2 separate regions of the Homo sapiens genome follow, and region 2 is linked to region 1. Evidence: fine-mapped expression QTL. A gene starts in region 1. The other region holds a variant in brackets. All regions are shown on one strand. Distances are between the middles of the regions. Region 1 holds the start of CKB (creatine kinase B). Region 2 overlaps MARK3 (microtubule affinity regulating kinase 3).

Region 1 (5,366 bases):
CTCTACCAAGGGTGACGGAAGTCTCTACAGCAAGGCTAAGGGCTCGCCAGACGGCGAACATCAGGGGTGCATGGTGGGCACTGCCCAGGCAATAAGTTAGGAAGCAGCAGGGCTGGTGTCGGGTGTGGGCCGGGCTTCATTTCTGGGCAGGCATGAGGTCGTCGATGGCCTGGCCCTGCTCCAGCCGCTGCTCCATCTCGATGAGCAGCTTCACTCCGTCCACCACCATCTGCACCAGCTCCACCTCTGAGAAGCCCAGGCGGTCAGCGTTGGAGACGTCGAAGACCCCGCCCACCGCAGCCGTGTCCACACCGCCTGGGGAGACAGCAAGTCAGGGCGGAGGAAACAGGGCTGCCCAAAGGCCACGGGAAGCCGCAGCACCTGCCCTGCTCACCTGTGCCTCGCTTCTGAAGTCGCAGCCGCTTAAGCACCTCCGAGAACTTCTCATGCTTGCCCAGGTTGGGCAGCTTGATATGCACACCTGCCCGCAGCCCGGTGCCCAGGTTGGATGGGCAGGTGAGGATGTAGCCCAGGTGAGGGTTCCACATGAACTCATAGTCCTTAGACTTGAAGAGAGTTTCAATCTGCAGACGGAGAAGAGGGTATGAGGGAGAAGGCCTGCCTGAAACCCCTACAGGCCCTGAGACTCCCCAGTGCCGGAAATCCCCCGGGGGGACTGATGCTGGGGCACCCACATCCCTGCTGGGGCCCTGGGGTCTGGGCCTGCCCCGTCCCTGGCACCTGGGTGAGGCCGGTGCAGAAGCGGGTGAACACCTCCTTCATGTTGCCCCCCTTCTGCATGGAGATGACCCGCAGGTGGTCCTCCTCGTTGACCCACACCAGGAAGGTCTTATTGTCATTGTGCCTGCGGGAGGGCTGGTCTCAGGGCATACCCAGAAAAAAGCCCCAGGCCGCCCCCAGACCAAAGGAACTTCCCAAGTCCCTGAGGTGCTGCTCCCTGCCATGCCCAGGAGTGGAGGCTGCTGCCAAGACTCCACCCGCCAACACGGGGCGGGCGGGGGAACCGGGACGCCTCACAGCAGGAGAACCCCAGCTGCCATCATGCGCTGTGGCCTGAGGTGGGGCGGGGCCAGGGACCGCCAGGACAGCCCGACCCGCCCCCCACAGTGGGGGTAGGAGCCCTGCCCCTGGAGAAGCTTTGGCGTCACCAGCCCCTGGTAGAATCCCAGCGGCGGAGGAGTGAGAAAAGAAAACAAAGAGCTCCAGCTCCCAGGGCCGTCGGGGAGAGGCGCCAGAGAGCCCCGCCCCCACCTCACGTCTCGGGGTGGGGAGGTGTTGCTGAGTCCTGAGCCCCCACGGGCCGGGGCCCAGTCCCTTAACGCACCTGCTCGGCCAAGGTCACCGGCGCAGGAGGAGGCGCGGCACGGAACCCAGACCCGGAGCGCGGCCGGCCCCTCCCTCCTCCTCCTCCTCCTCCTCGCCGCGAGGGGCCCCACCCCCGCGAGGGGGGCGAGAGGGAAAGCGGAGGTAGCGGGGAGGGAGGACGCCGCGAGAGGGCGCAGAGGGACACGCACCAGATACCGCGGGCGTCGGGCCAGTCGCGGGCCATGCCCGAGGCCAGCAGCAGGGGCGACACGGGCTTGTCGAAGAGGAAGTGGTCGTCGATGAGCTGCTGCTGCTCCGCCTCCGTCATGCTCTTGAGCGCGTAGTATCGGCCCGCCAGGTCGCCGTCCAGGCTGGACAGGGCTGCGAGGGGTGCGCTCAGGACGCTCGGCTCCCGCGCCCGCCCCTCCAGCCCGCAGCGCGGACCCGCCCGCCCCCGTGCCCCACCTCGGGGGACGTCAGAGGGCCCCACCCGCCCGGATCTGCGGGCGTCCAGTCCTCACGGCCCGGGCGACGGTCCCAGGCGGTGACCCCGCGCCAGGACCCGCCCTCCCTGGGCCCCAGGCCGCTGTGGGCGCGGGGCTGGGCCTCCGTCCCTCGGTCCCTCCGGGAAACTGAACCCGGGCGCGCGCAGATAAGAGCGCGACGGCGGCTGCCGCTCCCGGGCGACGTAAACAAAAGCGGGCGGGGACCGCGCCGGGAGGGGGACGCGGCCGCCGCCGCCCCTCGGCCCGCCCGGCCCCTACCTTCCACCGCGAGCTTCTCGATGGCGCGGCGCTCCCCGCGGCTGCAGTGCGGGGGGAGGCAGAAGCCACGGATGCTGCGGCCCGTGCGCACCCGCGAGCTCAGCACGTAGTTGGGGTCCAGGTCGTCGCCGCCCTGGGAGGCGAGACGGGAGTGAGCGCCCGAAGACCCCGGCCCCGCCCGCCCGGCCCGCCCGCAGCCCCGCACCTGCAGGTTGTCGGGGTTGAGGTCGGTCTTGTGCTCATCGCTGGGCTTGTAGCCGCCGTGCCGGTCCTCGATGATGGGGTCGAAGAGATCCTTGAACACTTCGTAGGACTCCTCGTCGCCCGCCACGCAGCCCACGGTCATGATGTACGGGTGGCCTGGGGGAGGGGGCGCGGGACGGGGACAGTGACGTCACTGCCGGGCCCGAGCGCGCTGCTGAGGACCCTGCGGCTGCGCGGGGGGAGGGGGGGCCGGGACCCCGGCCCCGAGGGGTCGCGTACCCGGGTTGTCCACGCCTGTCTGGATGACGTCGTCCAGCGTGAAGCCGCTCGGCGTGCTCTTGGCGCGCAGCTCCGCGTACAGCTCGGGGGTCAGCACCTTGGCCATGTGGTTGTTGTGGGCGCTCAGGTCGGGGAACTCGTCCTCGGCCGGGAAGCGCAGCTTCAGTGCGTTGTGGCTGTTGGAGAAGGGCATGGCGGCGGCGGGCTGCGGGGAGACGCGGGGTCAGAGGGGACCGGCACGCCGGGGTTCCCGGGCTCCCGCGTACCACTCAGGCCCCCGCCGCCGGGCCCCCCGGCGCCCCCCGGGACGCGGCCAAGGTCAGCGGGGTCCGCAGCGCGCGCGGGGAGCGCCATCATCGCCGGGGACCCCCGGCCGGTCCGGCGCGCGCTCCAGGCGACGCGCCCCCTTTGCACGCAGCGCCCCTAGCCCGGGCGCGGACGCCCCCGGCCCCCGGGCCCACTCACCGGGCGGCCGGGCGGGGGCGGGGGCGCTCCGTCCGTCGGCAGCTCCCGGAGCGACGCAGGCGAACAGCGGCCGCTCCGCGCTCCCGCGGCTCTTAAGGGGCACAACGCGGGCCGCCCATTGGCGGCTATTTATAGCCCATTCATTCCATTGGCCCGCGCCGCGGGGTGGTGCCGCCGCTTTGTCCGCCGCCCGCAGCCCCCAACACCCTGGCCGCCCACCCGAGCTGTCCCCTCGCTGGGACCCCGCGCAGCCTGCCCAGTCCCCCGCCCAAGACCTCGAGGCCGAAACCTCAGGTCCTTGGATATCTGGATCCCCTCGCACGCCCTTGCCTCTGGGCGGGAAACTGAGGCGGAGAGCCTCCGGGCACTCGAGGACGCTTGGGTTCATCCGCATCCTCGAGCCTGCCCGCCTAGTCCAGCCAGCCCCCGCGGCGGCGGCGAGGGGCCGGGCGAAAGCTTTCGGGGCTTCCGCAGCAGGTACGGCCCCCGCCCCACCCCCGGCCAGTGCGAGCTGGCCCGGAGCCGCCGACCTTCCTCAAGGTGCCCGCAGGCGTTTCCTGGGCGATCCTGGTGCAAAGCGAAGGCGCGCGGGAAGCGCAGTCTGGCTGCGGCCCAGCCCGGGGGCACCCGCGGTGCCCTGACCTTGGACAAGTCCTGGGTCTCGGGGGGCTGCGAGCCAGAAACCACGGGGACGCTGTGGCCTTAAGAGGCCGCTGGCAAGTGCAGCCTCGGAGTTTCCAGACCCCAACCCTGGGCCCTCTTCGCAGGGGACAAGTTTACCCGACCCCCAAAGGCAGTCCCCGGAGACTTCAGGCAAAGATGGGAGGAAACGCTAATAAACAATAAGCATAAGTGCGATTAAAAAAAAAAACTGATCTCACGAATAACCAGAATCATGCAAATTAAGCAGTGACTCCACCTGCCCCTACCCCCAACACTCCCAGATCGACCCCAGCCATTGCTGGCTTTGAGCTGGAATGCGGGAAGACAGGCGTCCACACGCTGCCTGCAACTTAAATTGCTGCATGCTTTTTGCAAGATAATTTGGCAGAATCTATTAACGTTAACAATGTTCGAACTCCGTGACCCAGCAATCTCCCCTTCTAGGAATGCAGCCCTTAGAAAGGATGTCTCAGTTCTCTCCACTAATGGACCAAGAGATCTGTGGAGGGAAAAACAAACATAACTGGATACAACCCGATGCCCCATCAGGCGGGAGTGGCCAAGGGTAGGGAGGCATCTGCTTGCTGTGGAATATTATGCAGCTGTTAAGAGGGGGAAGTGGAGGATGTGGGGTTAATATCCATCAGGGACCCTCATCTGTTGCTCTGTGAATAAAGCAAAGAAGGGGGGAACTCTTATCTGTGGGTATATTTGATACAAATCCCTCCAGCAGTGGCACAATGAGCACCTAACAGGTGCCAGCCGCTGGGGATACAGCAGGCAGCGAGGTACACAGCGCCTGCTGCTGGAAGAAGACTGGCCATGAGCCAGCAGCCCAACAAACCAGATGACATCAGATCGGTGCTGCTGGGGCCAGGGGGACACAGAGCAGTGGCGTTCCAGGTATAAGGGACCCCGAATAGGTGCCTCAGAGCAGAAGGCACCAGAGCCAAGGCCCAAAGGCAGGGGAAGCCTGTTCGCCTCTGCCTATGTGAGCATCGGTGTGGGGGCCTTTTCTCCTGTCTCATCCCCATGGTCACTGCAGAGGAGACACATGCCTCTTTGCTCCTTGGCATGCTTCGTCCTGTTCCAAGCCAGCATTTTTTAGACTTAATAAAACCAACCCATGTAAAAAGGCAAACGGCCCCTCTGGGCTGGCCAGACAGCAGGTGTCCCTTAAGCCTGGAATTCCTGCACTCTGTGCCCCGTGCAGCCTCTTCGCCCAGTTTTAGAAATTTCTGCAGCTGCCCACCTGCTACCCCACAAAACCTGAAGGGCTTAAGTTTCTGTTTCTGGAAGGGATAGCTGCAGCCCCTGGAGGCAGACTTGGGGGGAGGGAGAGACTTGGGGGCCACACTCAGGACTTCCTCTGTCTTCAGCAACTGCAGCTTCTCAGAAGGCCAACCCTCCCCTCTCTCACCCTCCTGGCTGAGAGCCTAACCTGCTTCCCAGGTCCCCCATGGGAAAGGACCCCCTTTCCCCTTTCCTGAAGGGGGCAGCCCCTCCCCCCAACACCTGTGGTTATTTCTCGTCAGGTGGGATGAGACTGAGAAAAGAAATAAGACACAGAGACAAAGTATAGCGAAAGAACAGTGGGCCCAGGGAACTGGTGCCAGCATATGGAGGACCCGCGCCGGCACTGGTCTCTGAGTTCCTTCAGTATTT
Region 2 (5,366 bases), 38 kb before region 1:
CACCATGTTAGCCAGGATGGTCTCGATCTCCTGACCTTGTGATCCACCCACCTCGGCCTCCCAAAGTGCTGGGATTACAGGCGTGAGCCACCGTACCCAGCCAGGTATTTCTTAATAGTAGTCTACTCTCTGGTAGATTTGTATTATAGTTCAGTTCTTAACTTTCAAATTTCTTCTAGTTCAAAAGTGACTTAATAGAAAATATCAATAGAAGACTTAATTAGAAGTTTCTGGTGTTACAGATTGTAGTCTACAGGACTACAGAAATGTTTCATGGTCAGGCACAGTGGCTCACACCTGTAATCCCAGCACTCTGGGAGGCCAAGGCAGGTGGATCACTTGAGGTCAGGAGTTCGTGACCAGCCTGGCCAACATGGTGAAACCCCGTCTCTACTAAAAATACGAAAATTAACCATGTGTGGTGGCACGCGCCTGTAGTCCCAGCTACCAGGGAGACTGAGGCAGGAGAATTACTTGAACCCAGGAGGCAGAGTTTGCAGTGAGCTGAGATCGCGCCACTGCAGTCCAGCCTGGACAACAGAGCAAGACTCATCTAAAAAAAAAAAAAGTTGTTTCATTACCTTTACTACTTCTAAATTCTGAAAATGCACTACCCAGCTCCTTCTGAACTTTAGGATATGTGACTGTCTGAGGTGCAGAGTCAGTCTCCTCAAGGGTGTTAAGACTAAGATCTGCTCTCTGCTTCCATCCTGTGCTACACGTATCATACACCAGGCACATGCATATATGCCTGTGTCTTCTGATTCTCTTTTCCTAAAATTTTTCGTTTCACTCTTTGGAAATAATATTTAAGACTTCTTTAATTTCTTTGGCAATATTTCCTTTCTGCATTCCCCCTGGAGACACCTGCCTTGTTGGGGCCAACTCTTTCATATCCTGACCTGTCTCGTTGCTTCTCTTAGCATCAGTCATTGAAATACTTTGCTTCTGAAGGTGTCGTCTTTCTCTTTAGTCAAAGAGAGTCTCACCGCCAAACCTTAAAAGACAGGGCCCATTGTTTTAATAATATTTGGACTTTCCTTTCCTATCTTATAAATGAATTAAAAGACTGGAAAATTATTGGGTTTAACTTCTTTAGTTAAGGCACTAAATGTGACAGCTTTCCCTTAAAATTGATGCTTGAGTCTTCAGTGAGATACAATTAGCTTTCCCTGCACAGATGACTTCTTCGGCAAATTGTTCCTTTTCCCTCTCTTCACCCACCCATATATCTTATTTCTTCACTAATTTAAAATATGAGTGAGCTGTAGGATGCCTGGACCTATGTTAACTTCTGAAACAAACATGTTAAGTTCCAATTTTAGCCTTAAATATTTTCGACATTTAGCCTTAAATGTTTTCTTCTTTATATGAGTGTTCATACGGAATTTCAACATGAGAATAATGATGGCTGATTTTTTAAAAACTGTGTGAAGGTTTAAACCAGAGACTCCACATATCTTAAGCCCTTACTACCTTCAAAATCCTACTGTAAACAGGATATTTTAAAGGCTTACTAAATGCAAGGCTTTTTCTCGTCATAGGCAATATAATTAATTTTAATTATTTTTTCTTTTGAAAATTAGTTTTATTAATTGGTTCTTACTAGGCCAATCTTTGTTTTATCAGCTTTCCTGTGGGAACAATAAAGTTAATGACACAGGGAGCATAGGTTAGGGCCAGTTGTTACTTTGGCACAAACACCTGTGATTCGTTTTCTGAGACTAGTTTTAAACTGGTCGTGCTGAAGGCCAGCCCACTTTCTGCTGTAATTATTCTGCCTTCTGATGTTATTCTCGAAAAATGGCCAGATTCCAGGCGTGACTAATGGTTGGTGTAAACTAGGCATGAGAAGGTTTGATTACACCTTCAATTGTATGATTCTATCATGATGGTATAGGTTTGCAGTGAGTCTTAAACCACATAGCACTGACACGTAGTGAGTGCTCAAACAAATGTTAGCTTTCATTATTAATTATAGACTGTTCAGACAAGGTTATGCAGAATTTTCTTAGTTTGCACTGACTAAACCTAATCTTTCAAGTTAATAATGTTGCTAAACCACCTACATAGCAGAGACACTCTGCTCCTACGATTTCATATGCTTTAGATACCCGGACGACACTGTTTAGACTACTTCATTTAAAGACCCCAGAGAAGTGACGTGCTGGTGTTACAGTAATGCAAACAGAATCTTTTCTTTTTTTTTTTTCTTTTTTTCTTTTTTTTTCTGCGATGGAGTCTCGCTCTTTTACCCAGGCTAGAGTGCAATGGCACGATCTCGGGTCACTGCAACCTCCATCTCCCGGGTTCATGCAGTTCTTCTGCCTCAGCCTCCCAGTAGCTGGGATTACAGGCACACACCACCACACCTGGCTGATTTTTGTATTTTTAATAGAAATGGGGTTTCACTAGGCCAGGCTGGTCTCAAATTCCTGACTTCAAGTGATCCACCTGCCTTGGCCTCCCAAAGTGCTGTGATTACAGGCATGAGCCACTGCACCAGGCCCAGAATCTTTCAAATAAATTTTAGATATTGGATATTACTGTAAAGTTTCAAAATTGTGAAGTGGCTTATTATTTTATCCACTTTACCCTGCATCAAGTCACATAGAGATTGAGCAGAGAAGGATTGAGGACACTTAGCGTATGTATCTTTGGACTACATATAAAAGTTGCTTTTTTTAGGCTGGGCGCGGTGGCTCCCACCTGTAATCCCAGCATTTTAGGAGGCTGAGGCAGGTGGATCATGAGGTCAGGAGATCAAGACCATCCTGACCAACATGGTGAAACCCTGTCTAAAATTAATTAGCTGGGCGTGGTGGCATGCGCCTGTAGTCCCAGCTACTTGGGAAGCTGAGGCAGGAGAATCACTTGAACCCAGGAGGCAGAGGTTGCAGTGAGCCGAGATAGCGCCACTGCACTCCAGCCTGGCAACAGAGCAAGACTCTGTCTCAAAAACAAAAAAAAAGGGCTGAGCACAGTGGCTTACGCCTGTAATCCCAGCACTTTGCGAAGCTGAGGTGGGCGGATCACCTGAGGTCAGGAGTTTGAGACCAGCCTGACCAACATGGAGAAACCCCATCTCTACTAAAAATA[C/CAAAAAAAAAAAAAAA]AAAAAAAAAAAAAAAAATTAGCCAGGCATGGTGGCGCATGCCTATAATCCCAGCTACTTGGGAGGCCGAGGCAGGAGAATCGCTTGAACCCAGGAGGCAGAGGTTGCGGTGAGCCAAGATTGCACCATTGCACTCCAGCCTGGGCAACAAGAGCAAAACCCCATCTCAAAGAAAAAAAAAAAAGGCTGCTTTTTTTTTTTTTTTTTTTTTTTTAAGATGGATGGAGTCTTGCAGTGTGGCCCAGGCTGCAGTACAGTGGCTAGTCACAGACATGATCATAGTGTACTGTAGCCTTGAACTCCTGGGCTCAAATGATCCTCCTGTGTTGGCTTCTTGAGTAGCTGGGACTACAGGCATGGACCACCACACCTGGCTAATTTTTTATTTTTTGTAGAGATGAAGTCTTCCCATGTTACCCAGGCTGGTCTCAAATTCCTGGCCTCAAGGGATCCTCCAGTCTCAGCCTTCCAAAACACTAGGTTTACAGGCATGAGCCACCATGCCTGTCCTTGGACTATATTTTTAATTCTGCTTTTGCCCAGTCACTTGAGTATGCTTTTAATCAGCAGCCAATACATTTCTTATCAGAATGTTCTGATAGGGGCTAGAGGTCATAGCAACAAATTCAAAGTGCCTATCCTTTAGTAACCTTAAGTGGATTAATGTTTTAGAAAAGATAGTCAAGACTGGGCACAGTGGCTCACAAGCCCTGTCATCCCAGCACTTCGGGAGGCCTAGACAGGAAGATCACTTGAGGCCAAGAGTTCAAGGTCAGCCTGGACAAAGTAGCCTGAGACCCCCGTCTCTATAAAAATATATATATTTTTTAATTTTAAAAGATAGTCATGAATACAAAACAGTTGGGAAGATTAATAGGAACTCTCTTCATGCAACTTGAATTTTAAGAAAAACATTGCTATTTCTATCAATTAAGGTTTAAATGTAGACCAGGCATGATGGCTCACGCCACCATGTAATCCCAGCACTTTGGGAGGCCATGACAGGAGGATTGCTTGAACCCAGGAGTTCAAGACCAGCCTGGGCAACATGGTAAAATTCCATCTCTACCAAAAATACAAAAAAATTAGCTGGGTGCCAGGCACAGTGCCTCACACCTATAATCCCAGCACTTTGGGAGGCCGAGGCAAGTGCATCACCTGGGGTCGGGAGTTCAAGACCAGCCTGGCCAACATGGTGAAACCCCATCTCTACTAAAAATACAAAAATTAGCTAGGTGTGGTGGTACATGCCGGTAGTCCCAGCTATTTGGGAGGCTGAGGCAGGAGGATGGTTTGAGCCTGGGAGATGGAGGTTGTAGTGAGCCGAGATCACACCATTGTATTCCAGCCTGGACGGTAGAGCCAGACCCAGTCTCAAAAAAATAAAAATAAAAAAATTAATGTAATACAGCTACTATGAACCCACAAAAACTTTAAAAAAATTTTTTAATTATTAAAAAAATGTAATGCTGCTACTGTTTTGCTTATGTAGATTGTGGGCTAGAATAGGAAATAAAACTATCATTTTTAACACTTTTCTGGGGGGAAATATTATTCGAATTTCATAACAATTAGCTTGATGACCTTTTAGAATATATATGTAGACCATTGTGATGTTGGGGCTGCCTGTTGTAAATAGGATTTTTGTGAGCTTGATTGTACAAAATTGAAATTTGCAAACATCTTACTGAGTTTACTGTTTCCTTCTGGGTGTTAGGCCTACTGTAGAAATCAGAAAAATCGGAAATATTTTGTTGCTTGCTTTGTGAAACTCATGATGTGACATGGATTAAATTTCTAAAAAGTTTATTTAATTGCCTTTAAAATTAGTATGTCAAAAAGTTTATTTATTTATTTATTTATTTATTTTAATTTGAAACAGTCTCTCTCTGTCACCCAGACTGGAGTTTAGTGGCATGATCTCAGCTCACTGCAGCTACCACCCCCGGGTTTAAACGATTCTTATACCTCAGCCTCCTGAGTAGCTAGGATTACAGGGGCCCGCCACCACACCCAACTAATTTTTGTATTTTTAGTAGTGATGGGTTTTTGCCATGTTGGCCAGGCTGGTCTGGAACTCCTGGCCTCAAGCAATCCACCCGCCTCAGCCTCCCAAAGTGCTGGGATTACAGGCGTGGGCCACCACGCCCAGCCTCAAGTTAATAATTTATAATCCCAGCACTTTGGGAGGCCAAGACGGGCGGATTGCCTAAGCTCAGGAGTTCCAGACCAGCCTGGGCCATGACGAAACCCTATCTCTACAAAAT

The links. PIP is the estimated chance that this variant, and not a neighbour inherited with it, causes the effect. A credible set is the group of variants that fine-mapping cannot tell apart.
Region 2: its variant is the best candidate, but not a certain one, in a credible set for the expression of CKB in whole blood (INTERVAL, PIP 0.63).

The regions. Positions count from the first base shown.
Region 1 is chr14:103,519,728-103,525,093 of GRCh38, forward strand. It overlaps CKB (creatine kinase B), which reads right to left and starts at 3,103. Exons shown (of 8, transcript NM_001823.5): 1 at 3,039-3,103; 2 at 2,574-2,778; 3 at 2,296-2,450; 4 at 2,091-2,223; 5 at 1,536-1,707; 6 at 742-865; 7 at 395-584; 8 at 1-315. The coding sequence starts at 2,766. The coding sequence ends at 137. RefSeq lists enhancers at 681-1,568, 3,345-4,230 and silencers at 1,342-1,711, 1,722-1,791, 1,932-1,981.
Region 2 is chr14:103,481,964-103,487,329 of GRCh38, forward strand. The region is part of intron 14 of MARK3 (microtubule affinity regulating kinase 3); the gene reads left to right. Among named protein-coding and RNA genes, the nearest start is that of CKB, 38 kb to the right of the region's middle. The variant C/CAAAAAAAAAAAAAAA (reference allele first, on the strand shown) is at 3,100.